Linked DNA regions of Homo sapiens. The protein of the gene in region 3 purifies or fractionates together with the protein of the main gene of each other region. This does not show direct contact. Each region holds a gene or a part of one and is shown on either strand. Other genes may lie near its edges. The genes, in order: SHQ1, ZCCHC17, KNOP1, ZFP62, NMNAT1, ZNF106 and DDX31.

Region 1 (3,500 bases), on a different chromosome or scaffold from region 3:
CAGTACTGGTCTGCAACCTGAGGGTTGGGGACCCCTGTTTTACGTAACTCACTTAACTGTATACTTCTGATCTTAGCTCAAGATGCTAATATTTTGCCAACCACAAAATGTTGTTTCAATTGGTCCAAAAATGTGAGTGATCTGGTTCAATAGGATTTTTAATGTCTTAATTATATCACCAAAGAAGCTATTTTCATATGGTTTCACATGATCACCTTATACCTGAAGTATTTTCTTCAATTTCCTATTCACTATATCCCATTTCCCCTACAAATACACAGCATTCCAAATATTTCTATTTATCCTAATTTCCTCCCAACTGTAATAAACATACCTATTTCTTCCACAAGTGGTTTTGCTGTCCTGGATTTTCTTGGTGCCAGAAGAGCAGTTAACATGTTCAGCCCCTCAAAATGCTGGCCAGGGGTTTCTTTGGGCAGGCGAATGGTAAAAATTCCTTAAAGATAAATTTGTTTTATGCTTAGATTAAAATATTTAAAAAGCTGGGCACAATAGCTTACACCAGTAATCCCAATACTCTGGCAGTCTGAGGCAGGAGGATCATTTTAGCCCAGGAGTTCAAGACCAGCCTGGGCAACATACCAAGACCCCATCTCTACAGAAAATAATAATAAAATCATTTTAATTAAAAGAAAAAAATAAATAAATAAAATAGTCAAAGACTTCACAAATATATCTGAGAAATACATGTCTTGGTAAAACATAATTCTATTTTACAGGCTCTAAAACTATGCCCTCATAGATTTGGTGAATACAAGTCAAGATAGAAAAAGGTTCTTAACAAGGGTTTTTCAGAAGCTGTCATTTCTATCAAAAATTATTAATCTGGCTGGGTAAGGTGGCTCACGCCTGTAATACCAGCACTTCGGGAGGCCGAGGCAGGCGGATCATGAGGTCAAGAGATCAACACCATCCTGGCCAACATGGTGAAACCCCATCTCTACTAAAAAATACAAAAATTAGCTGGGAGTGGTGGCATGTGCACCTGTAGTCCCAGCTACTTGGGAGGCTGAGGCAGGATAATCGCTTGAACCCAGGAGGAAGAGGTTGCTGTGAGCCGAGATCGCGCCACTGCACTCCAGCCTGGGCAACAGAGCGAGATTCTGTCTCAAAAAAAAAAAAAAAAATTATTTATCTGTGAAAGCTACAGAATACTTTAGTCTTATACAGTATGACCTTTACCTACTGATAATATTAAAAATCCAAGTTAAAACTTATAAAAATCAATGGCCTAAGAAGGTAATAGCTTAGAATTAACCAGGAGTTACTAATTAGACTTCTGGGAAAGGAGGAAAAAATCAGAATACCTAATCCAATGGAGAATGGCAACAGTTTTAAAAATACACAGAATCTTAGATACAACAATTATGGCTTAATAAGGTTTTCTGGCATGTCAGGAGATCTATCCCTAAAGTCTATGGCAGACTCAAATCCCTAAAGTCTATGTACTTCTTTTCTTTCCTTGACTGAGTTTATCTATCTTATTTAGGCTTCCCTGGGAACTTACTACATTATTTAGCACTTTGACATTTTAAAACATTTTGCCTCTTTCAGTGTACTGAACTGAATTCCAACATATCAAATACAACTCAGCCCAAATATCTCCGCATACACAATCTTCCTTAACTCCTGTGTACTTTAAAAATTTAATAATTTTGTTTCAATATGCAACTTACCTATAACTAAAAGCTGGTTTACTACCTAGGAAGGCAGTTTCACTATACTTCATTACACATTAATTACACTGCATTATGGGTTAGATCTCTGTCATTTAACCCACCCCCCCATACCCTACCCTTAGCCTAGTTCACTGAGGTCAATATTCATTGAATAAAGTACACAAGACTACACAAGGTGTTCTAAATCCGATGACAAAGGAAGCCAGTGGCTTCTATAAAGGAAAAATAAATGGGTTCATGGCTAGCTGAAATGAAGGGCTTATCAATCATGAGGAGAAAATTCAATTAGCCTTTAAATGCCACCCATGCATAGTTTCTCTCTCACCTACCTGTTATTAAAGTTCAAGTTTGAAAATTATACCAGAAAGATTCCATTCATAAGCTCATAAGTCATCTACATTTTTTATGATCAATCATTTCACATGTTCTAATTTTTACTTTTAAATGTCTACTAAATGTAGGGGAAGTACTCTAGGAAATAGAACCGGAGCAGTTAACTTTACTTTGAAGAACATTGTGAAATACTTTAAAAGACTTGTGAGGGGTGGGGAACATCAATAACAGGCACTGGACACTAAGAAACAAGAAAGAGTGATAGGAACAGATTGTATTTGAAAGACATCAAAAGGTCCCCATGGTATCTTGTAAGATTATTATGTAAATAATGTGAAAAATCCCAAGAAATAAACTAACAAAAATTCCAAAGACAATACCTTTATCTGCATCATAGGACCCTTGCTCACTTCCATTTTCTACAATTCTTCCAGGAAGGGTTAATCTGCAGATTTAACACAGGTCTCATGAAGTCCTTAAATTATAACGTAACATAAGTGGCCATCAATACTTGCAAACATTTAACCATCAAAATATATCAATCATTTTTTAAGAAGTTCCTCAGTATTTCTTTCACATTTTAATAAACTAAGTTAGATTCTTTCCCCAACCAAGAAAGTAGAAATTAGAGATGACTCATCTTTCTATTTGAATACCCCTAGTCACCAACAAAATAGATACTGAAAAAGAAAAGCCATAATAAATAGTAGTTATCACTATTGTTATAACACAAGTTGAGTATCCCTAATCTGAAAATCTGAAATGCTCCAAAATCTGAAACTTTTTGAGCACCAACATGACACCACAAAGTGGAAAACTCCACACTTGACCTCATGTGATGAGTCACAGTCAAAAAGCAGTCAAAACTTGGCTGCATACACAAAAGTATTAAAAAATTACATAAAACTATCTTCTGGCTATATGTATAAGGTGTATATAAAACAAATAAATTTTGTGTTTAAACTTGAGTTCCATCCTCAAGATATCTCATTATGTATGCAAAAATATTCCAAAACTCTAGAAAATCTGAAATTTCATATAAGGGACACTCAATCTGTACAGATAAGGGATACTCAATGGGAAACAATAAAGAAACACAAAACCAATTGATTTTATCAGGCAAATTACTACTTTAAAAAAAAAGCAGAAAGCAAAAGTGTCAAATCTCATCATTATTATGTAGGGATTTACCCCTCTTTTGTACTAAAAGAAATGAAGTGATTGGCTGGGCGTGGTGGCTTACGCCTGTAATCCTAGCACTTTGGGAGGCCGAGGTGGGTCGATCACCTTAGGTCAGGAGTTCAAGACCAACATGGCCAAAATGGAGAAACCCTATATCTACTAAAAATACAAAATTAGCCAGGCATAGTGGTGCACACCTGTAACCCCAGCCAGTCAGGAGGCTGAGGCAGAAGAATCACTTGAACCCAGGAAGGGGAGGTTGCAGTGAGCCGAGATCATTTGCCA
Region 2 (3,500 bases), on a different chromosome or scaffold from region 3:
ATTTTTAGGATGGAGTCTTGCTTTGTCACTCAGGCTGGAGTGCAGTGGTGTGATCTCGGCTCACTGGAGCATCTGGCTCCTGGGTTCAGGCAATTCTCCTTGAATCGCTTGTAGTCCCAAGTAGCTGGGACTACAGGCGCATGCCACCACACCCAGCTAAGTTTTGTATTTTTTTTTAACTAGAGTCGGGGTTTCACCATATTAGCCAGGCTGGTCTCAAACTCCTGACCTCAAGTGATCCACCTGCCTCATCCTCCCAAAGTGCTGGGATTACAGGCATGAGCCACCACACCCAGCCAGTACTTAATTTTCTAAAGGCAGGTGGATCTCTTGAGCCTAGGAGTTCAAGACCAGCCTGGAAAACATAGTGAGACCCTGTCTCTACAAAAACAAACAAACAAAATTACCAGTAACCTCCACGTGGCCAAATCTAGTGGTCAATTATTGGGTCTTATTTACTTGGTCAGTCAAGATGGATACAGACCATCTTACCTAGAACACATTCATGGTATTTCTACCACATTTTACATTCTCTTACTTTTCTACAAACTTCCTTGGCTGTTCCTTTCCTGTCTTCTTTGTTAGTTCATCCTCATCTCCATAACCTCTAAGTGTTGAGCACTCTGGGGCTCAGTCTCTTCCCTATATTTACTCTGCAGGTGATCTCATGAACATAAATACCATCTATATGTAGATGACTCCCAAATTTATATATCTTACCTGGGCCTCTCCCTTGAACTCCAAACTATATATCCACTGTCTACTCTATGGTCTACTTGAATATCTGATAGGCAACTCAATTTCTATGCCCCGCCCCCTCCCAAACCTAGACTCTCCCAGCTATCTTTCCATCTGTGTAGACAGCAACTCAAACTAAACTCCTGACTGCTCCCTACTCCCACACTTACTTCTCCTGCATTCCTTCTCTTAACTCAAATCTTCCAGTTACACAGTCCAAAAATTTTGATGCCATCCTCACCTGCTCTTATATCTTCAAAATATATACACACTTCAACTCCTTTCTCATCATTTTTGCCACTGTCATTCTAGTCCAAGCCACCATCATCTGGATTATCTATCAACTCACTGCTTCTACTCTTGCTTTCTGACCATCTAAGTTTCTACATAGCAGCCAGAATAATTCTCTTAAAAGGAAGTCAGATCATGTCATTCCTCTGCTCAAAACCTCTAATAACATCCATCTCACTCAAGTGAAAGATGAAATCCTCCCAATCACCTATAAGGCCCCAGTGATCTGGGTTCCTTCTGATCTAACTTCCTCTCCTACCACTCTCTTTTCATTCATTTCACTGTAGCCACACTGGCGTCCTTAATGTTCTTTAATCATGCCACACTCTTTCCCAACATCAGCTGTTACATTTGCTGAAATGCTCTCTCTCCACTTACCTGAATAGCTTGTGTCCTCACTTCCTTCTGATATCCACTCAAACAACACTTTATGAGAAAGGCCTGGCCCAGGCCAGGCGCGGTGGCTCACGCCTGTAATCCCAGCATTTTGGGAGGCCGAGGTGTGTGGATCACCCGAGGTCGGGAGTTCAAGACCAGCCTGAACAACATGGAGAAACCCGTCTCTACTAAAAATAGAAAATCAGCTGGGCGTGGTGGTGCATGCCTGTAATCCCAGCTACTCGGGAGGCTGAGGCATAAGAATTGCTTGAACCCAGGAGGCAGAGGTTGCAGTGAGCTGAGATCGCACCATTGCACTCCAGCCTGGGCAACAAGAGTGAAACTCCGTCTCAAAAAAAAAAAAAGAAAGGCCTGGCCTTACCATCCTATCTAAAATGAAAGTCACCTGCTCCCCACATCCTCATTCTAGGACTCCCTATCTCCCTTAATCAAATTAATTTTTCTCTATAGCACTTATCACTACTTGATACATTATTTTTACTATTTTGTATTTGTTTACCAGTTTATTATCTGTGTCAATCGACCCCATCCATTAGAATCTAAGTGCCATGAAGATAGGGATTTTACCTGTTTTGTTCACTACTTTACCTGCAATGGCCAGAACAGAGCTTAGCACACAGTAGAAGCTCTATTAATGAATGAAGCTGGAGTATAGTGTGTGGGAAGAGACTGGTGGGAAATGATGCTAGGAAGCTGGGCAGATTGTGAAGAGTCTTAAAGGAACTTAGACTTTATGTCATAGAAGAAAGCGAACCACTGAAGGCTTCTGAGTAGGCAACACTGGGCAACGCTCTCTGCTGTATCTGAATAGGCAGAGAATGTGTCCCTGAGTGGGCTCAGGACTGGCAACCTTTCTCTATATAGGCACCAGAAGAAGTTCTCTGGACAGCAGGACAGAGCCAACACTGCAGCCAAAGAATGACATTCCTATTTCTTGTTCTTCTATATATGGTACAGCAGAAAATCATATGGTAAAATCAAAAGAAAATTATATTCTGAATCAAACATATCTAAAGTTTACTATAATCAGTGGGCAGCTTGGTCCCCAAGGCACTTACTTCTTCATAACATAACACCGATTCAGAAAGACCTACGATGGCATATGATTAATGAAAGAGGCCAGTAAAGCACAGACCACAAGTTCATCAGAAGATTATCCAGGGATTCACTACAAAACCTCCATTCCTATTTTACCAACCACTTCATAGCCCATTTCCAATTGCAACACACAGTTTCCTTTTATTCTAATTATGCCCAACAAAAATTATTTATAACATTCAGTCACTGGGACAAAAATTGTTCATGGTGCCAGATGCACACAACTAAATCAATGCATCCTGGACTTGTGGGAAAAGGCATTCAATACATGTATGTTTTAATGAAAAGACGTGGGAAGGCTCAAGGTTAGGAAGATCTGTTATTCTTACTCCTGCCCCTGCTCCTTTCATTATCGCCCACTGCCAGCAGCAGGAGTCAATACCTATTACTCTGCAATCTGAGGGCAGGTTTCACTGAGTGAAGACACCCAAGGAATGACAGAGAGCACAGATTATGAAGTCTATCTATTCACAGGTAGTTAGTGCATGTATTCCTATTAAGTACCAGGCATTATTTGTAAAAGGTGACATCCTTTCCTTATCCTGGGCTATTTCTGGTGGTTCCTCAACAGGTCTACCATTTTCTGTCTTCTTAGAGGCTTTGCATTGTCTTCCACTAGACTATAAAAAGTGAGGTAATGAAACAGACTTGTGAAGAAACGGAGATGAGAACCTAATGAGACTTTCCAGTTCTAGTCCTAGGTGGCCTGACTACACTGCATTTCCTGTCCTTGGATGTCCATAAAATCAAATAACCTCCTTGGAATGTGTTTCTATCCTTTACCACCATACATAGCTTGGCTGCTTATCTTTCTCCTTATATGATTAGCCGCTTGAGTGTAGGTACCATATGATCTTTATTTCATGAGTTACTTTTTTAACTGTTAGAAATGCATTAACTGAACTTACATGAGTTACTATCATATATGCCCTTCCACACGCCAGGCATTCCTACTCTCCACTGTCCAACTCAGG
Region 3 (3,396 bases):
AGATCCACACTGGAACTGGACATAGATTACATTTCATCTTTACTCTGAGAAATACAAGACTACAGTTGAACACTCAGTTAACCTCAGACAGTAAAAGGGGCTAAAAAATTTTTTTAAATCAATTTATTGGCCGGGCACGGTGATTCACGCCTGTAATCCCAGCACTTTGGGAGGCTGAGGCAGGCAGATCACCTGAGGTCAGGAATTCGAGACCAGCCTGGCCAACATGGTGAAACCCCGTCTCTACTAACAATACAAAAATTAGCCAGGCGTGGTGGCACACACCTGTAATCCCAGCTACTTGGGAGGCTGAGGCAGGAGAATCGCTTGAACCCAGGAGGCGGAGGTTGCAGTGAGCCGAGATTGCGTCACTGCACTCCAGCCTGAGTGACAAGAGCAAAATATCATCTCATCTCAAAAAAAATTAAAGGACAGCAGACACTAATGAATGCTTCTTTCCCTCCCCTCTACTAAATCATACAGAAACTCAGACAGCATTGTGGGGTGGCTCAGATACTCCCAAGTGGCCTTTATTTCACAAAATTCTGTTTTTTTTTCTTTTTTTTGAGACAGTTTCACTCTTGTTGCCCAGGCTGGAGTACAATGGCGTGATCTCGGCTCACCCCAACCTCCGCCTCCCGAGTCTAAGCAATTCTCCTGCCTCAGCCTCCTGAGTAGCTGGGATAACAGGAGTGCGCCACCACACCCAGCTAATTTTGTATTTTTAGTAGAGATGGGGTTTCTCCATGTTGGTCAGGCTGGTCTAGAACTCCTGACCTCAGGTGATCCGCCGCCTCGGCCTCCCAAAGTGCTGGGATTACAGGCGTAAGCCACCGCACCTGGCCCACAGAAGTATTTTCATTAAAATTATTTTATCTACTTTTACTGTGTGATGCTATAAAATGAAAAACAATTGGCAAATTCACAAATTATGTTCTTCAAGTCATTTCTTCTCCTCTGAGGCTGAACGTGGTGGGCAGCATTAGTTCCCAAGCCTAGGCCAGTGAATTCTTACCGCTCTCACATTACACCTGAACTTGGACTTTCACATGAGGTCGGGCACCCATTATATCAAAGGTGCTTCTGAATCCTGTCATGTGGCCCAGGCAGAGGCTTAGATTTTATATGTCCTTGTGTGTGCAGTTTCCCCCAGCCCTTTACTGAATCAATAAGCCGGTCTCTGAAAACACTGGTCTATGTGAGATGAAGTCTATCATTAGCAAGGATGGAGCAATAAGATGTCAGCCAGAATTGTAGAAAATAAAAATGATGGGGCCTGGGTGCGGTGGCTCATGCCTGTAATACCAACACTTTGGGAGGCTGAGGTAGGTGGATCATGAGGCCAAGAGATCAAGACCATCCTGGCCAACATGGTGAAACTCCATCTCTACTAAAAATACAAAAAAAAATTAGCTGGGTGTGGTGGTGCTCACCTGTAATCCCAGCTTCTCAGGAGGCTGAGGCAGGAGAATCGCTTGAACCCTGGAGGTGGAGGTTGCAGTGAGCTGAGATCACGCCTCTGCACTCCAGCCTGGGCGTGGAGTGAGAGTGAGACTGTCTCAAAAAAAAAAAAAGAAAGAAAAACAAAACCATGGCAACTTCCACATGAGACTTACTTACATTAGGTCTTCTATTGTTACTTTAACAAATTGCCACAATTGTAGCGGCTTAAAACATAATGTTGTCATCTGACGGTTCTATAGGTCTTAAGTCCGCCTGGTCTCACTGAGCTAAAATTAAGGCATCAGCAGGGCTACGCTCCTTCTGGGAGGCTCTAGGGGAGAATCTACTTCCTTGCCTTTTCCAGCTTCTAGACAGCACACACATTCCTTGGCTTCTGACCCTTCCCTTCCCATCTTCAAAACCAGCAGTGTCTAGTCAAGTCTTTCTTAAGTCTCTTTGATGTGGACTCTTTTTTGCCTTCCTCTTCCACATTTAGGGATCTTTGTGATTCCTCCGGCCCACCCAGAAACACGGGATCCTCTTCCTGTTTTAAGGTCAGCTGATTAGCAAACTTAATTCCCTTTTGTTTCGTAACCTAACAAATACACAGGTTCTGAGGAGATGTGGTAGGAAGGGGTGTTATTCTGCCAACTTCTTTTGTGAGGACTGTGTCTATTTGGCAAATTTTTTTTTTTTTTTGGAATGGGGTCTTGCTCTGTCACCCAGGCTGGAACACAGTGGTGCAATCATGGCTCACTGCAGCCGTGATGGAGGGTGGTGCTCAAACCAATGTTAATTTACAAAGGATGGGAGCTCAGAGTGATTCTCCCAAGACAAGACTGCCAGAGGGTGGGGTCCTGCTCATCTGAGAGATGGTGATCTGCACTGGCAGAAAGCAAAAGGACAAGATTAAGTCCATTCTGAAGACACCCAGCATTGTGGTGTCTTGGCTGCCCAACCTCCACTGGTGAGACGTAAAGTTCTTATGTATATAGAAAAGCAATAAAGCTCCCCCTGTGCAAATGGAACTCCTAAGCCAGTGGTGATGTTGAGTTAGAAAGTCACAGCCTATTACAGACAGAATTTACACCAGGGGCAAGGCCTGACCATCACACCCTCATGAGAGCTACCAGTCACCAGGGCTTGGATGGGAGCAACACAGCGGACATATGATCACCTCTCCACAATCACCCAAAGACAGTTTTTTTTTGTTTGTTTTTGAGACAGAGTCTCATTCTGTTGCCCGGGGCTAGAGTGTGCAGTGGCACCATCCCAGCTCACTACAACCTCCACCTCCCGGGTTCAAGCGATTCTCCTGTCAGCCTCCTGAGTAGCCGGGATTACAAGCCCGTGACACCACACCCACCCAGCTAATTTTTGTATTTTTAGTAGAGACGGGGTTTCACCATGTTGGTCAGGCTGGTCTCGAACTCTTGACCTCGTGATCCGCCCACCTTGGCCTCCCAAAGTGCTGGGATTACAGGCGTGAGTCACCGCACCTGGCAGAGCACAACCTTTTTAACAGAGCTAAGGCAGGCCAACGTCAGGGTGACCTCTTGGCAAGATAAAAACTATGAGTAGTAAACGGCCGATTCCAGCTACTCAGGAGACTGAGGCACAAGAATCGCTTGAACCCAGGAAGCAGAGGTTACAATGAGCCGAGATCACGCCACCACACTCCAGCCTGCGCGACCGTGAGACTCCATCTCAAAAAAAAAGAAACGAACGGCTGGTTCCTGTTTACACCAGGCACATTCCTGTAGTGTTGCTCAAGGTCAGGAGGGATTTGTTTCTCCATCAAAGGAGGAGGTGCCCAGAAGGCACTCACTCAAATCCAGAACACTGCCTCTTGGGCTTTCCACGGCCTCTCCCATTATGTATCTCAAGGTTGAATCCAGGAAAGAAAGGCAGGACAAGTTCACGTCCTGAGGGAAGTGGCCCAAGTAGGTCCTT
Region 4 (4,283 bases), on a different chromosome or scaffold from region 3:
GCTACAATGAAACGCCCATTCCCTCTACTTGAGTGAACACAGTGTCTCAGCACCCACATGTATAAAAATGAAAAATAGGCGTCGAGCTGATGCCAAACACCGGCTCACCCCAGCAATATGTAAAATTCATTCAAATAATATAAATAATTTGAGCTGTAAAACAAAATCCATCTCATTACAAGTTGTGCTTCCAAAGCACTTCACTTTTTGTCTAAGAATTAACAGTAAACATTTTGAAATATTTATATAATTTTGCTAATAATCCAGAAAATAACACTAAGAAAAAATGTAATCTACTTTCGTTACGGACATATATGCTAGGATAAACAATAAACAATAAAACAATGCATAGAACTATTTTACACTAGGATAAAATTCAATGAGGCACATAGAATGAAAATATTTTTACAGTAGAATAAAAAGCCGGTGAGGGACATAAAAGTTCAAGGAAAAAAACCCTAAAAGATGTAAAACTTATGACTGTTAAAAGTGGATAATACCAAATCTTCAGGGATTTAGATTCCATTGGATACACTTGAAAGCAATTTTGTTCTTAATATTAACAGCATGCCAAAAATATACCCTTTGCAATTATTTAAACTTAATATGAAAAATATTTAGATGTTGCTGTTTTTAAAAAAGGCTGACTATAGCCAATAACTTAGTTGTATATTTAAAAATAAGAATATAATTTGATTGCTTGTAACACAAAGGATAAATGCTTGAAGTGATGGACACGCCATTAACCCTGATATGATTATTACGCATTGCATTCCTGTCTGTATCAAGATATCTCACGTACTCGACAAATAGGGACACCTACTATGTACCCACAAACATTAATTTAAAAAAAAAAAAAAGGTCTTCAAAGTCATTTTAGGCCCTGGGTTTGGAAGCCGACACCGGCGGTGGGGTGGGCAGGGGGCGAGGTCGCTGCCAAGCTGGCGCCCCGGGTGGGAGCGTGGCCCGGTCCCAGGGACGGCTCCAGGGGCGCGCTCCCACTCCGCATCCCCAGTGCCTAACCGGGGGCGCTTCTGGTGCTGACGACCAGGAAGGGCTGGTGCTCTCGGGCCAGCCCCCAACCAGCTGAGAAGGCAATGGGTCCCCAGCCCAGCGCTGTCCTGCGCCCCTCCCGGATTCCCCCATTTCCCGCCAGGCCCCCACTTCCGGGAACGTCCCCGCACCCACACCTGGCAATGAATCACGTGTTCAGGAACCAGGTAGGCAGGTATTTACTTTATTACCTGTGCCCCTCCCCCAGCCTACCCCAGAAGCTAATGGGCACGGAAACAGAAAGCCCCGCCCACGGCCTCCTGGCCGCGCCTGGAGCGCGCGCCCTGCAGCTGGTCCTCAATAAATAGCCGAGGAGGCGCTCCCCTCCCTCCCTCCCGCCGGCGCCGTCGGCCCGGACCATCGAGTCAGTCCTCCAGCGTCCCAGAGAGGGCGCGGAAGTGCCCCAGGGCCGGCGCGGGTTCTTCCGGCCGTGCGGTCCGCGCTTTTGTCCCGCTGGCGGCCGGGTTCCCGCGGCGCCGCCACAGCCAGTACGTGAGTCCGCGGCCGCCCGCGCTCCCGCCCCCGGCCCTTGCCTGCCACGCCCTCCCCTTTTTGGCCGGGTCTTGGCTGCTCCGCGGGTCTCGGGCGGGATGTGGGAGTAAGCGTGCCCCCTCCCCGCACATGTCTCAGTGGGTGCGTTTCTGGGGAGCGGAGGGGAGGGAAGACCTCGGGCAGGCAGAGGGGTGCAGGGCGCGCCCCTGGAACAGACTGGGCTCTGTGTGGGCCACAACTGCGACGTTTGAACGGACCAGCGTCATGTTAGGTCTGCTCAACGTTCCGAGAAGGGCCAGGGCCCCGCTCCGGTGTTCCTCAACTATTCATCCCTGTTTTGGATGGGAGGGGATCCCTAAAAATTAGCGCTTCAAAATACCCACCATTTCGTGCTCCCTCTGCAGTTAAGTTTGGTACTCTAGGACTTGAGAGTGATTGCGAGGGCAGAGAGACCTCTAGGGGTGATCTGATTCGACCTTCTTCCCCTCCGCTCCACCCCACCACCTTTTTTTCTTTTTTTTTTTTGGTCGGTGAGTGATGATGATAAGCTCCCGCTGCAGGTGTGAATAGAGACCCCGGAGGTGCGTCCTAGCCCTCATCTGGGGAAGCGCACCTGCATACAGACGGGTGCACCGGGGAGGAGGCGACCTGCCGCGTGTTCCTGCAAGCAGAAAAGGAGTTAACTAGGTAGGGAGAGGAAGGTCGAAGAGTTTCTTAGACCCAGGGGACAGCCTGCGGGAACCCAGGGGTGGGACGGAAAAGATCACTGGGGAATGCCAGGGCTGGGTGTGCTGCTCTAAGACATTTAAAGTAGTTGGCCAGCAGGAGCATTTCTTTGTGAAAGCTCAAGGCTTAAAAAAAATAATAATATGAAATATGTAATATATTCATATGGCTGGGATATTAAAAATATAAAAAGTTACCAGTGAAAGATTTCTTCCCATCCCGCTTAGGTATCTTCCTAGGCCCTACCCTCTTAGGTAACCACTTTTGTTCCTTTGTATCTTTTCCGAATTTCTGCAAATACTGGCAAATATAACTAGTTAGTTCCCCCTTTTTTCACACAGGTGATAGAAATCCTTCTAACTCCTTGATTCTTTCACTTTATCTTACTGGTCTCTACATGTCAGAACACAGAAGTTGTGTTTTGTTTCGTTTTGTTTTACAGAGCTGTGGTAAGTATTGGATGGGCCATTGTTTGGATGTTTTCGATGTTCTGTCCTTTTTTAGATCTATTCGGGGGCATTTGGGTTGTCTCCAATTTGTTGTTACTTCAAACAATGGTATACTCAATACAGTGTATTAGGGTAGGGATTTTTACAGAAGAAACTAAACAGCCGTTAGAAAATTATTTTTTTACATTAACTCAACCAGTTATTGGCAGATTGTTACATATGACAAGTCGTTATCAAAATCACTGATGTAGAGTGTTTAAAGAACAAATAAGACGTAAGTAGTTCTTCCCTTCTGAGACTTGTCCCTATATTTAGTGTTACACTAGCCTAATAGACTAATTGTGTCAATGACTCCAAGCCAGTCCCTGCCGGGTTTGATTCAGAAAATCAGCCTCCCTTTTAGTATCGCCTTTGCTCACCTCCTCCCCTACGACAACTAGAAATCTCTTCTCCACTACTTGGCATGAGAATGTTCTATTTCAGTTTTTTACTTTAAGGAAAAATCACCTTTCATTCTTATTTCTATATTTAAGCAATAGAACCAACTCACGTTAATCATATACATTCCTAATATTCATAAGACAAATGCAACAGTAGCTAGAACACAAACCATATTCTCTTCTCATCTGCATATCACTTCTCTGTTCCTTAGTCCCATCTTTCCTTTGTACATTTTGCCCCTCCTAGGTACTCTTTGTTCTGGGTTGGTAAGCATTTTGTCACTTTCTCTTGTCTTGTTTCCTTTCTTTGCTCATCTCCAAATCAAAGACAGTATCCAAGGATTTAAGGTGTAGAATCCACGCGTGAACCTTGAGGTGGTAGATTGTCTTGTGGAATATGGTTGGACTCTGCAAATTGAAAGTCGTTCCGGGCTAGTTGCAGTCTGTTAATAGGAAGGGGTTTTCGGCCAGAGCAGGCCACGGCTCCTCTCTAACGAGTTGTCTCGGCTCTTGAAAAGTGGCTCCTGAGTCTCGGAGGCAGAGACAGCAAGAATGTAGGGCCGGTTCTTAACTGTTTGCATTCACTTTTCTAGGCCTTGGCGATAAAGCATGAACAAGAAGCTCGGAAGAGTGCCCAGAGGTTGTTGGTCGTATGTAGTTTGGAAGGAGTGGGTGGCGTTCTATGTCTGACGCTTTTGGCTGATGTAACCAGGCTATTAGACTCATGCTGCGTGTTGAAAACTGGTTAGAAAGGGCTTGTCCATTCAGCCTTTAGAACTTTTAAGAAATTCAGGAGTTTCTGGGTCTTTATATGGAAGAGTTGTGTTTTGGGGGTAATTCCTTACTTGTGTCATCAGGGACACATGACTTAGCTACCAAATCAGTCTTGATTGGATTATAGTGACTTACTCCTGGAACTCCAGGACTCAGTCCTGTCTTGCCTCAATCCATTCTCCCACTGCAACTAGTGTGAGTGATCTTTCTTTTTTTTTGAGACAGAGTCTCGCTCTGTCACCGAGGCTGGAGTGCAATGGCGCTATCTTGGCTCACTGCAACCTCTGCCTCCCAGGTTCAAGCGATTCTTGTGCCTCAGCCTCCCAAGTCGAGTAGCTGGAACTACAGG
Region 5 (4,078 bases), on a different chromosome or scaffold from region 3:
TCAGAATGCATTTCTCTTATGCATTAGAAATGTTTTCATTATCCATTAACTCTAAACAAGAACCTAAAGGCATATAAAAAAACCCTTAGCATAGAACTGCTGAATGACTAAGTCACAGAGAAGAAAAGGCAAATACCTCCACTGCTTCGAAGACTGCACACGCTAAAACTACACAAATGCCAGAACAGAACATTGGATTATCATTATCAAAATTAGGGGAAGGCTGGGTGGGGTGGCTCATGCCTGTAATTCCGGCACTTTGCGGGGCCAAGGTGGGAGGATTACTTGAGCCCAGGAGTTTGAAACCAGCCTGGGCAACATGACAAAACCTCATCTCTACAAAAAATACAAAAACTAGCCGGATGTGGTGGCATGCACCTGAAGTCCCAGCTACTAGGGAGGCTGAGGTGCAAGGATCACTTGAGCCTGAGAGATTAAGGCTGCAGTGAGCCGTGCTCGTGTCACTGTACTCCAGTCTGGGTGACAGGGCAAACAAAAACAAAAATTAAAAAATCAGGGAAAGTACACTGTGAACAAATGTTTATTCAGCAAATTTTTCAAATTATTATTATTATTTTTTTGAGACCGAGTCTCACCCTGTAGCCCAGGCTGAAGAGCACGATCTCGGCTCACTGCAACCTCCGCCTGCCGGGTTCAAGCAATTCTCCTGCCTCAGCCTCCCGAGTAGCTGGAACTACAGGCATACGCCACCATGCACAGCTAATTTTTTGTATTTTTAGTAGAGACAGGGTTTCACCATAGGGGCCAGGCTGGTCTCAAACTCCTGACCTCGTGATCCGCCCACCTCGGCTTCCCAAAGTCCTGGGATTACAGGTGTGAGCCACTACACCCAGCTCAAATAATTTTTTTAAAGTATATTTTCCAGTTTTGTTTTGTATGGCACTGACTCTGTCACTGTGAATTCCATTTTACCCAAAACATTGACACTTCCACACATATTTATGAATCAAAATTGAAAGATAATTGCATTAATAGGTACTTTTATTTTTTTCTTCTTTTGTTTTGTTTTGTTTTGTTTTTTTAAGACGGAGTTGCTCTGTCACCCAGGCTGCAGTGCAGCGTCGTGATCTTGGCTCACTGCAGCATTCACCTCCTGAGTTCAAGCGATTCTCATGCCTCAGCCTCCTGAGTAGCTAAGATTACAGGCATGGACCACCACGCCTGGTTAATTTTTGTATTTTTAGTAGAGATGGGGTTTCACCATGTTGGCCGGGCTGGTTTTGAATTCCTGACCTTAAGTGATCTGCCCGCCTTGGCCTCCCAAAGTGCTGGGATTACAGGCATGAGCCACTGCACCCGGCCGACTTTTGCAAAGGAAATTCTTTGAATCTGAAGTGTCTTGCAAGGTAGAGGCTATTGCAACCATTTCAACTAGTGTGTCAACAGTCTTCTCTAAGGTGGGCTAGAAAAATGGTTTCATATTCAAATTGTAACTCTGAAAAACAACTGATGGTAATAAAGAGATTCCATAATCAGACAGAACTAAGTGAAACAATTAGTTTTGGTAGAGTTCTGTGGTAATCATAGTTAGAAGTTTATCCTGGGTAGCTGAAATATAACTAACTTCAGACTCCAGGCCTGTCGGTGGCTTGTGCCAATCACCACAACACTTTGAGGGGCCAAGGCCAGAGGATCGCTTGAGCCCAGGAGTTCAAGGCTGCAGTGAGCTATGATCACACCACTGCACTCCAGCCTGGGCAACACAGCTCTTGTTTTTTAACAAGACATTGTTACTTAAAAAAAAACTGCCCTGATGAAACAATTCTACCATGAACACTGATGTTGTTCTGTGGACTACTTCAGGAAGATGGACTAAGAACATCATTAAATAGTTCCAACCAGTTTCTGGGTAATTTTATTTTTAATTTTTTGTTATGAGGGTCTTGCTATGTTGCCCAGCCTGGGCTCAAATGATCCTCCCACCGCGGGCTCTCAAAGTGCTGGGTTTACAGGTGTCACACCGCGACAGCCAAGGGTAACTTTTTTTTATTTTTATTTTTGAGATGGAGTCTCGAACTGTCGCCCCGGCTGGAGTGCAATGGCGCGATCTCGGCTCACTGTAACCTCCGCCTCCAGGATTCAAGCGATTCTCCTGCCTCAGCCTCCCGAGTAGCTGAGATTACAGGCGCCCACCACCACGCCCAGCTAATTTTTTGTATTTTTAGTAGAGACGGGGTTTCACTATGTTGGCCAGGCTGGTCTCGAACTCCTGACCTCGTGATCCGCCTGCCTCGGCCTCCCAAAGTGCTGGGATTACAGGCGTGAGCCACCGCGCCCGTCCAAGGGTAACTTTTTAAGAGCTGCCCTACAGCTCATTACCTCCTTCTCAAGGAGCATGAGTGTCAAACCACCTCCAGCAAAGTAGATGTAGTCTTTTACAGATTTGGAAAGAAGGATTTAGGAGGAAAGGGAAGTCGTTCGGAATGAAGGATTTCCTCCTCTGACGCCCAGCCGTCCCCCGTTAAGCCTAAAGGTGCCAGACCTCAAGACTCTTCTAGAAAGAGATTTTTCCTTTCCAAGGTGAATCCATCTGTTCCGAAGGTCAGAAGCTATTTTACCGAAGTTTTCCGTTCCACTGAAAAAATTAAGGGTCAATCAAAGCTCCTTGCCCCAAACCTGAATATGAGCTTGCCTCGGGTCATATTCGACTCTAAAGACTCCACCACACCATCCTGGACTCCCCTATATCTAGGACAAAAAGCGACCAGTTTCTCAGGGGCTCCTTGCGGGGAGCTTACCGCGCCCTCACTGTCCGCCGGCCCGAGTGCTACCGGAGATCACCAGCGGCCCGGACGCCAGCGAGTGGAACATCTCGGTCGCACTCTCATTGGTTCCAGGGGGCCGGAAGTGCGTGCGTCCAGCGGAAGTGCTCCCCCGGCGCGGTCCGCCAGGCCAGTGCCCTCAGGTAGGCGGGGCCCCTGGCCCTAAACTCTGGGACTGGCGGGCGGTCAGGCGGCACAGGGGGAATCCCGGGGGCCTAAGGAGGTTGTCCCAGTTTTTGTCAGGTAGGCCCGGAAGGAGTTTCGGGGACCATGGGTTTACGGCTACCTCTGGTGGCAATTGGGGCCTGTTGGAGCCCGGCCGCCGCGGGACCTACGTGCCGGACTTCAAGTTCCCGCGTGGGGTGGGATTTGCTGCGGTGGCCGGAGCTGATTCTTCACCCAGTCCTGTTGGTTCTGGGCCAAACCCTCCTCACTTTCAAGGAAGAGGCGTGCTCTCCGCCCTTACCTTTTCCAAGCCTCTGGGTTTGACGCCATCCCTCAAGGCGTGTCCGGATGCGGGATTTTCCTCAAAGACCCTCTCGGCCTCGCTAGGAAGAAACTCAGAAAGGCTGCGGTAGGCGCAGTCGAGGGGGAAAGTGCCCCCGCCCTTGATGTCTCAGGCTGCTCAAGTGGAAGTTATCTGGACTGCCTTAGGGCAAGTTTATATATAGCAAATAAAATTACTTGTTAATGGTTTCCTTTTTTCCAGCATCTCCACCCCGAGGTGGTTTGAACTTTGAGCCTTTTGTAGTCCTGATGAATAATTTCATTTTCCTCAAGTTTATGACACTCGGAACGTCAAGAACTGGAGGTTTGTGCAATTTGAGACCGGTCGGCACTGTGCAGAGATCAGAGTACTAAGAGACAGGTGAGCATGAATGAGGACCCTCCGCTCCAGATATAGTGTCTGAGAGCGGTTTCTGTAGTTTCGTAAAAGTGAAAAGTGCACCACATTTAGTGACTACTAGGTGGTGCCAACGAGTTAATCTTTCGGGGATAAATCTCAACTAATGTAGTACCAGGTTAAGGCTTTTAAAATGCACCCATTTTTACTGAAATGTATTCAGAATAGCTTTAGCTCCTTAAAATATGTTGAGCCTTTATATACGTGACCAAATTATCGACGTTCTATTCTGTATTAGGTACTGAGAAAGCTGAGAGAGGAATCAGACTCATATTCTGTTCTCCAGAGTTTAGTCAGAGGAGATAACGTATTATAATAAAATCATATATAATTAAAGGCAGAAATAAGTGCTAAATAGAGAATAAGATTTGAGCTGGGCGCGGTGACTCAC
Region 6 (3,500 bases), on a different chromosome or scaffold from region 3:
AGACATCTACAACAGATATTGTTGGCAAACATTTAATTAAATGAAACACGTAGAATTCTCTTGATCAGGGTCAAAGGGTTACTTTAAAAGAAAGTGAGGAAAAAAAAGACACCGAAAAGCAGCACACACCTGGGTAAGCCTTTGCCCAGCTCTTGCTTTTTCTTGGTTACTTGCTGAATGACCTGTTCCCAGTTGACATTTCTCCGAGATGCATTTAGAATCTGCCGTAGGGTTGGCTTGAGCCCAGACTCCTTCTCTGTCTCACTCTTTCGGTGACCGCTAATATTGCGAATGCGGCGGGCACTATTGAGGTTTGGCTCAGGAAGGTGTACTCCAGTTTTGCTCTTCAAACTAATGTGCCGGGTTAGATCCCTCTGAAGTGAGGCAGGAAAGCCAAGCTTACTTAGTTCAGGCAGGAGAGGGCCCGAGGGCTGACTGATGTCACTTTTTTGAAGCTCTGCATCCAAGCTAGCACTCTCAAAGCCTTCTGTTTCATAAGATACATGAGATTTAATAGAGTCATCAACCTGTGCATCTTCTAGAGAGGTTTTCAAGTCTAGCAATAAGCCAGGGTGTGGACTGGCTGCAGATGTCATTTGTAATTCAGATTCTTTCTGGCGAACTATGGGATTACATGGGGAAGTGGATAGCTCTCTAGAAGTCTTCAGGATGCGGTCATCCTCCTCTTTCTCATCAGCAGTTCGAGTGCTGCCAGATAACAATTCTGTAGTTGCAGAACCTAGGGTTCCAATTTTTGTTCCATGCTTTTCCGTGTCAGATGTCTCTCCATCACTTTCATCTTCTAGTGCGTGCACTTGAAACTCAATTTTCAAAGACCCTTTTTCAGATTCTTCTACATTTCTACTTGCTTTTGCATAGTTCCTGGTACTTTTAGAAGTGCTAAGAAGTGGATTTTGCAATGACTCATGACACTGTAGCACCTCTTTGGCCTTTCGTAAAGTATCATTTAAATTATCACCAGATTGCTTTTGAGAGCCAAATGTACTTTTATTCCCTTTTAAAACATGAGGACATGAACTACGCAGTTTGGATATGTAAGGACCATGGTTATCTTCCACAGTGGGCTTGTTCGAGGGATTTGAGTGTTCTCCAGGGGAAAAAAAATTTGTTTTGGTGTTTTTTGAGATATTCTTTGGATCTTGCTTTTGAGACAATGATTTAGTGGCTGGACATGGAAGGAGTGGGGATTTCAATGATGGCATTTTATTTGGTGTATGCTCTTGTTCAGGTTTTTCTGCAGTGGGGCACTGTCTCACCACCTCGAAGGAAGCAGCGGAATCAGAAGAGGCCTTGTGATTAAGAGATCCAGTATGTATTTCTTTTTGTGTTTTCTGTGTTGGGGAATTACGTGTTTCATCAGTTTGGGGCTCCTGTATTCCTGTAGTTATCAAGCTAAAATCAAAGAGAGGTTTCTCTATCATTTCTGACTTGTTACCAGTGATGTCTTTCAATCCCGACTGTAAATCCAGAGTCTTCTGAGAAGGGTAAGGCGTCCAGCGACGAGGCTTTTCCCTTGCCGCACTGCCATTCTTTCCACTAACTTTGGAAGTAGCAGTGTCTGCTTGTTTAGTGGTTTGGCTTTCCAGCTGCTCAAAATTGAAGTCGAGTAAGCCTTCTGAAGGAAATTTATCACTTGTAAATCCTTCAGAAGGACCTCTATATGTGGCAACTGTACCAAGTTTGTCATTTTCTTGCCGCTGCCAATTATATCTGTCGTGACTGTATTTGTTTGACTTATTAGATTTCTTGTTCCATAGCATAGTCATGTCTTCCATTTGACAGTTAGAATTTCTGTTTCTGCCTGGTTGAAATTTGTCTCCAGGGCCACTGTAATTCCAATTATTTGTACTACGTACACTGGATTTCCAGTTTCCGTTACTGTTGTTCATATGCCAACTGGAAAAGCCACCTGTTCCTTCAGAAAGCCAACTGGAATTCCTTCCTGTACCATTATGATTCCAATCTACTGCTCCACTATTTGAAAGCCAACCACCTCCAGAATTACTATGGTTGTGAAACCAAGTCGAGGAGCCTCCTGCAACACCCTTATGCCACCCGGAACGTCCTCTTGGTCCACCACCATTCCTCAAAGAATGTGGAAAGCTGTTTTTCCTAGTATTATTAAAGCCATCTTTTTCCCATTTCCAATCCCGCTGTGGAGGTCCACGATGATGCCATGCAGGCTGACTGTAACTCTCTCTGTCTTGGTAAGGAATTCGGTCTTCTCGTCTCCATTGGGGTCGTCTGTCATCAGAGTTTATTTCTTGGTTGCTATTGGAAGGTTCATCTTGTCTGGAAGAAAAACAGTTTTTCATTAGCGATTTAAAGGAATTCCTATGCTACCTTGAAAGGCATAACCCACCAAACTTCCCTTGTACTTTCCTCCCGTTACTTAGAATATGTAACCGAGTCTGGTTTTATATCTAATAGTGGTTGTTTTCATATCTTTAAATGATATATTTAAACGTATATTCCTCAACTTATTAATTTAAAAATAAAACATTTTAAATTACTTAAATTTCAAGTAATTACAACCATCTCCCCCATCACTCAGAAATATTAAAAATTTGGCACATTTGGCCAGGTGTGGTGGCTCACATCTATAATTCCAGCACTTTGGGAGGCCGAGGCGGGCAGTTCACTTTAGGTCAGGAATTCAAGACCAACATGGCCGACATGGAGAAACCCCATCTCTACTAAAAATACAAAAATTAGCCAGGCGTAGTGGAGCACGCCTGTAACCCCAGCTACTCGGGAGGCTGAGGAATGAGAATCACTTGAACCCAGGAGGTGGAGGTTGCAGTGAGCTGAGATTATGCCATTACACTCCAGCCTGGGTAACACAGTGAGACTCTCTCAAAAAAACAAACAAAAATTTGGCACATTTATATTCCCTCCCTTTCTTGGTCTTGTTTTTCTTGGCATGTTCTGAGATTTTGTCCCTATCATCCAATTATTATTTTTGTATTATGCAGGTTTTTTGGAAAAAGAACAAGTATATTTTATAGCTATAGTTATCTTTTTTTTTTTTTTTTTTTTTTGAGACAGAGTCTTGCACTGTTGGCCAGGGTGGAGTGCAGTGGCACAATCTCAGGTCACTGCAACCTCTGTCTCCCAGGCTCAAGCAATTCTCCTGCCTCAGACTCCCGACTAGCTGGGATTACAGGCATGCGCCACCACACCCGGCTAATTTTTGTATTTTTAGTAGAGACGGGGTTTCACCATGTTGGCCAGGCTGATCTCAAACTCCTGACCTCAGGTAATCCACCCACCGCGGCCTCCCAAAGTGCTGGGATTACAGGGGTACAGGCTTGAGCCACTGCGCCCGGCCTAGTTATCATATTTAGTACAATTTTATGTTCAGCTGCCCTTAATACCATGATTTTTCCAGTTGTAGGTTCTTTCTGAAAAACTCCATTTCTTAACCTATTTTAAATAAGATGATACTTTGCATGGTTATTTTTATTAATAAACACTTT
Region 7 (3,500 bases), on a different chromosome or scaffold from region 3:
AGCTTGGTCCCCGACACTGGAGCACCAGGCCAGCCTTGGACTGGCTCTGTCAGATTTCTTAAATGTGAAAGAAAAATAAAACTTGTATATTGTTTGTGCCACTGTTATTTGTTATTATTGTTGTTATTCACAGCTGAGTCTAATCCTAACCAATGCTTTGAGGTTTCAGGTTTCATATTTACTCCTCAGTTATAGACTACATGCATCATTATTGAGTACTGATTATTAAGCTATAATACAATAAAAATGTTTTCAAAAGAATGAAGACAATTTGAGATTTACTTGTTGCAACGATTTTCAACTGACACCCATTACAAATCCTAATAAAGGAACAAACATATTCGGTTGTAAAAAGCAAGTTACAAAGCATTATATAAGTGAATGATCTTGTTTTTGTAAAAGCAAACAACAAAACCCCAAACTCTTAATGTCCACAAAAATGAGTGGCATGCAGGTGGATGTATACTAAACCAGGGATGCTATAGAGCATTGGGTAGGTGGGAGTTAAGAAGTTGACAGCACTGTTACTAGCAACATCAGAAGGAAACCTGTTTGTAGGTTTAATATTTTAAAAAACAGCACCGTCTAGAGGTGACCGCTCCCCACTGACTCAATCTGTCCCTGTGCACCGGGACTAGGAAGCAGAGCCTGAGACAAAGCTCTCAGCAGGTTTAGAAGGACCCAGCCTTACTGAATAGGAAGGCAGGACACATTCAAGAAGGAAACAACAACCAACAAACCTCTTCCTACCTGGCCTTTTCTGATTTTCTCTTCTCTCCTCCCATTAACACTCCAGGCACAATCCAGGTGAAAGGCTACAGAAAGACAGCAGACCACAGTCAGTGCAAAGCCCCCTTTACTAACATCAGACATTGATTCCAAATTCCCTTTCCTTAAACAAGGCATGGGAGAAAACTGGTGCTTCTCATTGTATAAGGTGTTATTGTGCAGACACAATTCCTAGGCATTGCTACACCCATGTTCACTATCAGCAGTAACTTGAATTATAGGTATATAACTAGCTTCTACCACAGTGAGAGAGAAATGTGAGCTTCTTAAATCATTCAAGTAGCTTGCCTTTCTTTTCCCACAGAGCCTGAACTGAAAACACATGTCAGTAAGTCTACTGCCATTTTTGGGGTTAAGATAAAAACCCAAGCAACACCCTTCCCTACTCTCCACCCCTAATAAAAGAAAGGATGGATCAATTCATGATCCAATTTGGTGAGCTGGCTGGCTTTGATTCTGAAGCCTTCACTCTCCTTTCTTAAACAAATCCTACTTGCAGCTAAGTTGCTTTCTACTGGATCACCATCAGGCTGTACCTGTGAATTTCTGTATGTGGCTTGCTAGTGACTATGATGAACAAATTGCAGGACTTTATGCACCAGGAGTCACTGATAATTCAGCTAAGCTAGAAATTGGTAGGTTTAGATCAGTAAAAACCTATAAACTGCCTAGAGAGAGCAGAGATATCCAGGCAAAAGGAAATAATTCTTATCTCTTTGAAAATAAAGAATAGACTGTAGTATATTAAATCCTTCCTCAAAGTCAGCAAGCAAGATGAAATGGAACTCATGGTTTGCCTTACCTTAAGCAGTTTCTGGACAGTGTCAAAGCTTTGTAGAGCTAGCTGTAAAAATTTTAAAAGTTATAGATGATGAACAGGATCCCCCTTTTTTTTTTTTTAAAGACAATTTAATGTGATTAGGATCCAAACTTGGACCTCAAGTTAAGATTTAAGAAGAAAAAAAATCCTATACACAGAATCTAATATACCTTGTTCTTAGACTGGTTCTGCAACCTGTCAGTTTGGGCAAAGAGGGTAAAGACAACACTTCTATTTCTTGGACATACACAAAAATAGTGTTTTGTGCTCCCTCTGCTGGCTCAAATTCCCAGAGTGCCACACAGAGAAGTTCAAGTCTGTGGTGCACAAAAACGTAAGAGAATGAAACAAAGTAACCTGAATTTGACTCTCCTTAGAAAGAGAAAGAATATAATATGTACGCAGAGTAAACCACAATAGTGACGCAACAGGGTAGCCTCTGGGAACTTCGCTCTCAAGGAGCGATGACTGTATTCTACAACTGTGCCAGGATATCTGAAGCCTGGGAGATGGTCGCTCCTCAAGTTTATATCAATAAAACAAAAGCAAACCAACAGCTCCATTTGAGAACAAAGCAAGTGAAAATTAAAGTAGGCTACAACCATTAACAACCTTCAAAAATGCCTCATACAGAATCCCGTTCTTAAAGAACGTATATACAGTTTCCACATATTTAGTATTCATGAAGCATCCTCGAGAAGTAGCAAGTTTGCTGCTGTAAAAATTTTAATAGCTTCTGTGCCTGCTCCTTCATTGGACTGAGCTGAGATAGGGGACTGCAGGCTATATGAAAAGCTGACTTCAAATCATCTCTGTGATCAATTCTCTGTAAGGAAGTGATTAGCATTTGATATAGAAACCACATACCCTAATCTGAAGTTGCCTCTGTAGGCAAATAAAATAGATCAGATAGAAGAGATTTCCACCAAGAAAGAAAAAAATATTGAAAAGTTTAACTTTTAGGAACAAGTAACATTTTTGGTAGCAGTAGCTTCTTAAAAAAAATAAAGGTTCATTTTCAGAGCCAACTGCTTTTGGTTTTGAATAAAGTTGCTAAAAAATTGCATTTCTGTAGGTTTTTTTTTAGCAACTTAATTCAAAACCCAATTAAACAGACATTTAATAGTATCATTAGTTTCTAGACAATAGGAAAATACTTTTCCATACTTATGATTCTCAGAGACTACTTGAATTTTTCTCCTTGACAAGAACCAGAAGGATGGTTTCCAGGCAAATGGAACTGGTGTGCAGTGGCTTGTGCAGTAGGGAGAAACATGGTAAAACCACTTTTAAATTCAACGGGACATTAGTGAAAGCATGTGCTTAAAACTTGTCCCAAAAGGGAGCCTGCTTACCTCTCTCGTTGGCACGAGCACCAGGGCATAGGGGCCATCACTGCGCTGTTGACACACAGAAAAAAAATGCCATGAGCAGGATAAACAAAGGCAGACTCCAAACGGACAGGACACAGGGGTGGCCGGTTGTAGAACATCAGAAGCACTCTTAATGAAGAAAGGGACAAAATAAGGTTGCCCACTGATGTGGTCTGGCTGTGCCCCCACCCAAATTTCGACTTGCATTGTATCTCCCAGAATTCCCACATGTTGTAGGAGGAAGGGCAGGGGGGCAGGAGTGAGGTGGTAATTGAATCAGGGGGGCCGGTTATTCTCGTGATAATGAATAAGTCTCACGAGATCTGATGGGTTTATCAGGGGTTTCTGCTTTTGCGTCTTCCTCATTCTCTCTTGCTGCTGCCATGTAAGAAATGTCTTTCGTCCTCTGCCATGATTATGAGACCTCCCCCAGCCATGTGGAACTGTAAGTCAAATTAAACCTCTTTGTCTTCCCAGTCTCGGGTATGTTTTTATCAGCAGTGTAAAAATGGACTAAC

Evidence for each region.
Region 1: the proteins of KNOP1 (region 3) and SHQ1 purify together in Homo sapiens (affinity purification with mass spectrometry; 2 studies listed by BioGRID and IntAct, with this or other methods). This does not show direct contact.
Region 2: the proteins of KNOP1 (region 3) and ZCCHC17 purify together in Homo sapiens (affinity purification with mass spectrometry; one large-scale study listed by BioGRID and IntAct). This does not show direct contact.
Region 4: the proteins of KNOP1 (region 3) and ZFP62 purify together in Homo sapiens (affinity purification with mass spectrometry; 2 studies listed by BioGRID and IntAct, with this or other methods). This does not show direct contact.
Region 5: the proteins of KNOP1 (region 3) and NMNAT1 purify together in Homo sapiens (affinity purification with mass spectrometry; 2 studies listed by BioGRID and IntAct, with this or other methods). This does not show direct contact.
Region 6: the proteins of KNOP1 (region 3) and ZNF106 purify together in Homo sapiens (affinity purification with mass spectrometry; 2 studies listed by BioGRID and IntAct, with this or other methods). This does not show direct contact.
Region 7: the proteins of KNOP1 (region 3) and DDX31 purify together in Homo sapiens (affinity purification with mass spectrometry; one large-scale study listed by BioGRID and IntAct). This does not show direct contact.

What each region holds. Positions count from the first base shown.
Region 1 is NC_000003.12:72,841,946-72,845,445, forward strand, and holds part of SHQ1 (protein SHQ1 homolog), read right to left. Parts: intron 2,479-3,500; coding exon 2,414-2,478; intron 458-2,413; coding exon 335-457; intron 1-334. UniProt on the Homo sapiens protein: Required for the quantitative accumulation of H/ACA ribonucleoproteins (RNPs), including telomerase, probably through the stabilization of DKC1, from the time of its synthesis until its association with NOP10, NHP2, and NAF1 at the nascent H/ACA RNA.
Region 2 is NC_000001.11:31,356,032-31,359,531, reverse strand, and holds part of ZCCHC17 (zinc finger CCHC domain-containing protein 17), read right to left. Parts: intron 1-3,500.
Region 3 is NC_000016.10:19,701,437-19,704,832, forward strand, and holds the end of KNOP1 (lysine-rich nucleolar protein 1), read right to left. Parts: 3' UTR 501-3,396; downstream 1-500.
Region 4 is NC_000005.10:180,858,477-180,862,759, reverse strand, and holds the start of ZFP62 (zinc finger protein 62 homolog), read left to right. Parts: upstream 1-1,483; 5' UTR 1,484-1,540; coding exon 1,541-1,541; exon of another isoform or gene 1,542-1,650; coding exon of another isoform or gene 1,651-1,651; exon of another isoform or gene 1,652-1,686; intron 1,687-2,080; exon of another isoform or gene 2,081-2,668; coding exon of another isoform or gene 2,669-2,720; intron 2,721-4,283. UniProt on the Homo sapiens protein: May play a role in differentiating skeletal muscle.
Region 5 is NC_000001.11:9,942,197-9,946,274, reverse strand, and holds the start of NMNAT1 (nicotinamide/nicotinic acid mononucleotide adenylyltransferase 1), read right to left. Parts: upstream 2,801-4,078; 5' UTR 2,760-2,800; exon of another isoform or gene 2,504-2,759; intron 263-2,503; exon of another isoform or gene 1-262. Other genes in the region: protein LZIC, read left to right, coding at 3,540-3,594.
Region 6 is NC_000015.10:42,449,642-42,453,141, forward strand, and holds part of ZNF106 (zinc finger protein 106), read right to left. Parts: intron 2,314-3,500; coding exon 130-2,313; intron 1-129. UniProt on the Homo sapiens protein: RNA-binding protein. Specifically binds to 5'-GGGGCC-3' sequence repeats in RNA. Essential for maintenance of peripheral motor neuron and skeletal muscle function.
Region 7 is NC_000009.12:132,649,484-132,652,983, forward strand, and holds part of DDX31 (ATP-dependent DNA helicase DDX31), read right to left. Parts: intron 3,010-3,500; coding exon 2,965-3,009; intron 1,634-2,964; coding exon 1,592-1,633; intron 816-1,591; coding exon 751-815; intron 1-750. UniProt on the Homo sapiens protein: May have DNA helicase activity and RNA helicase activity. Probably have ssDNA and RNA dependent ATPase activity. Plays a role in ribosome biogenesis and TP53/p53 regulation through its interaction with NPM1.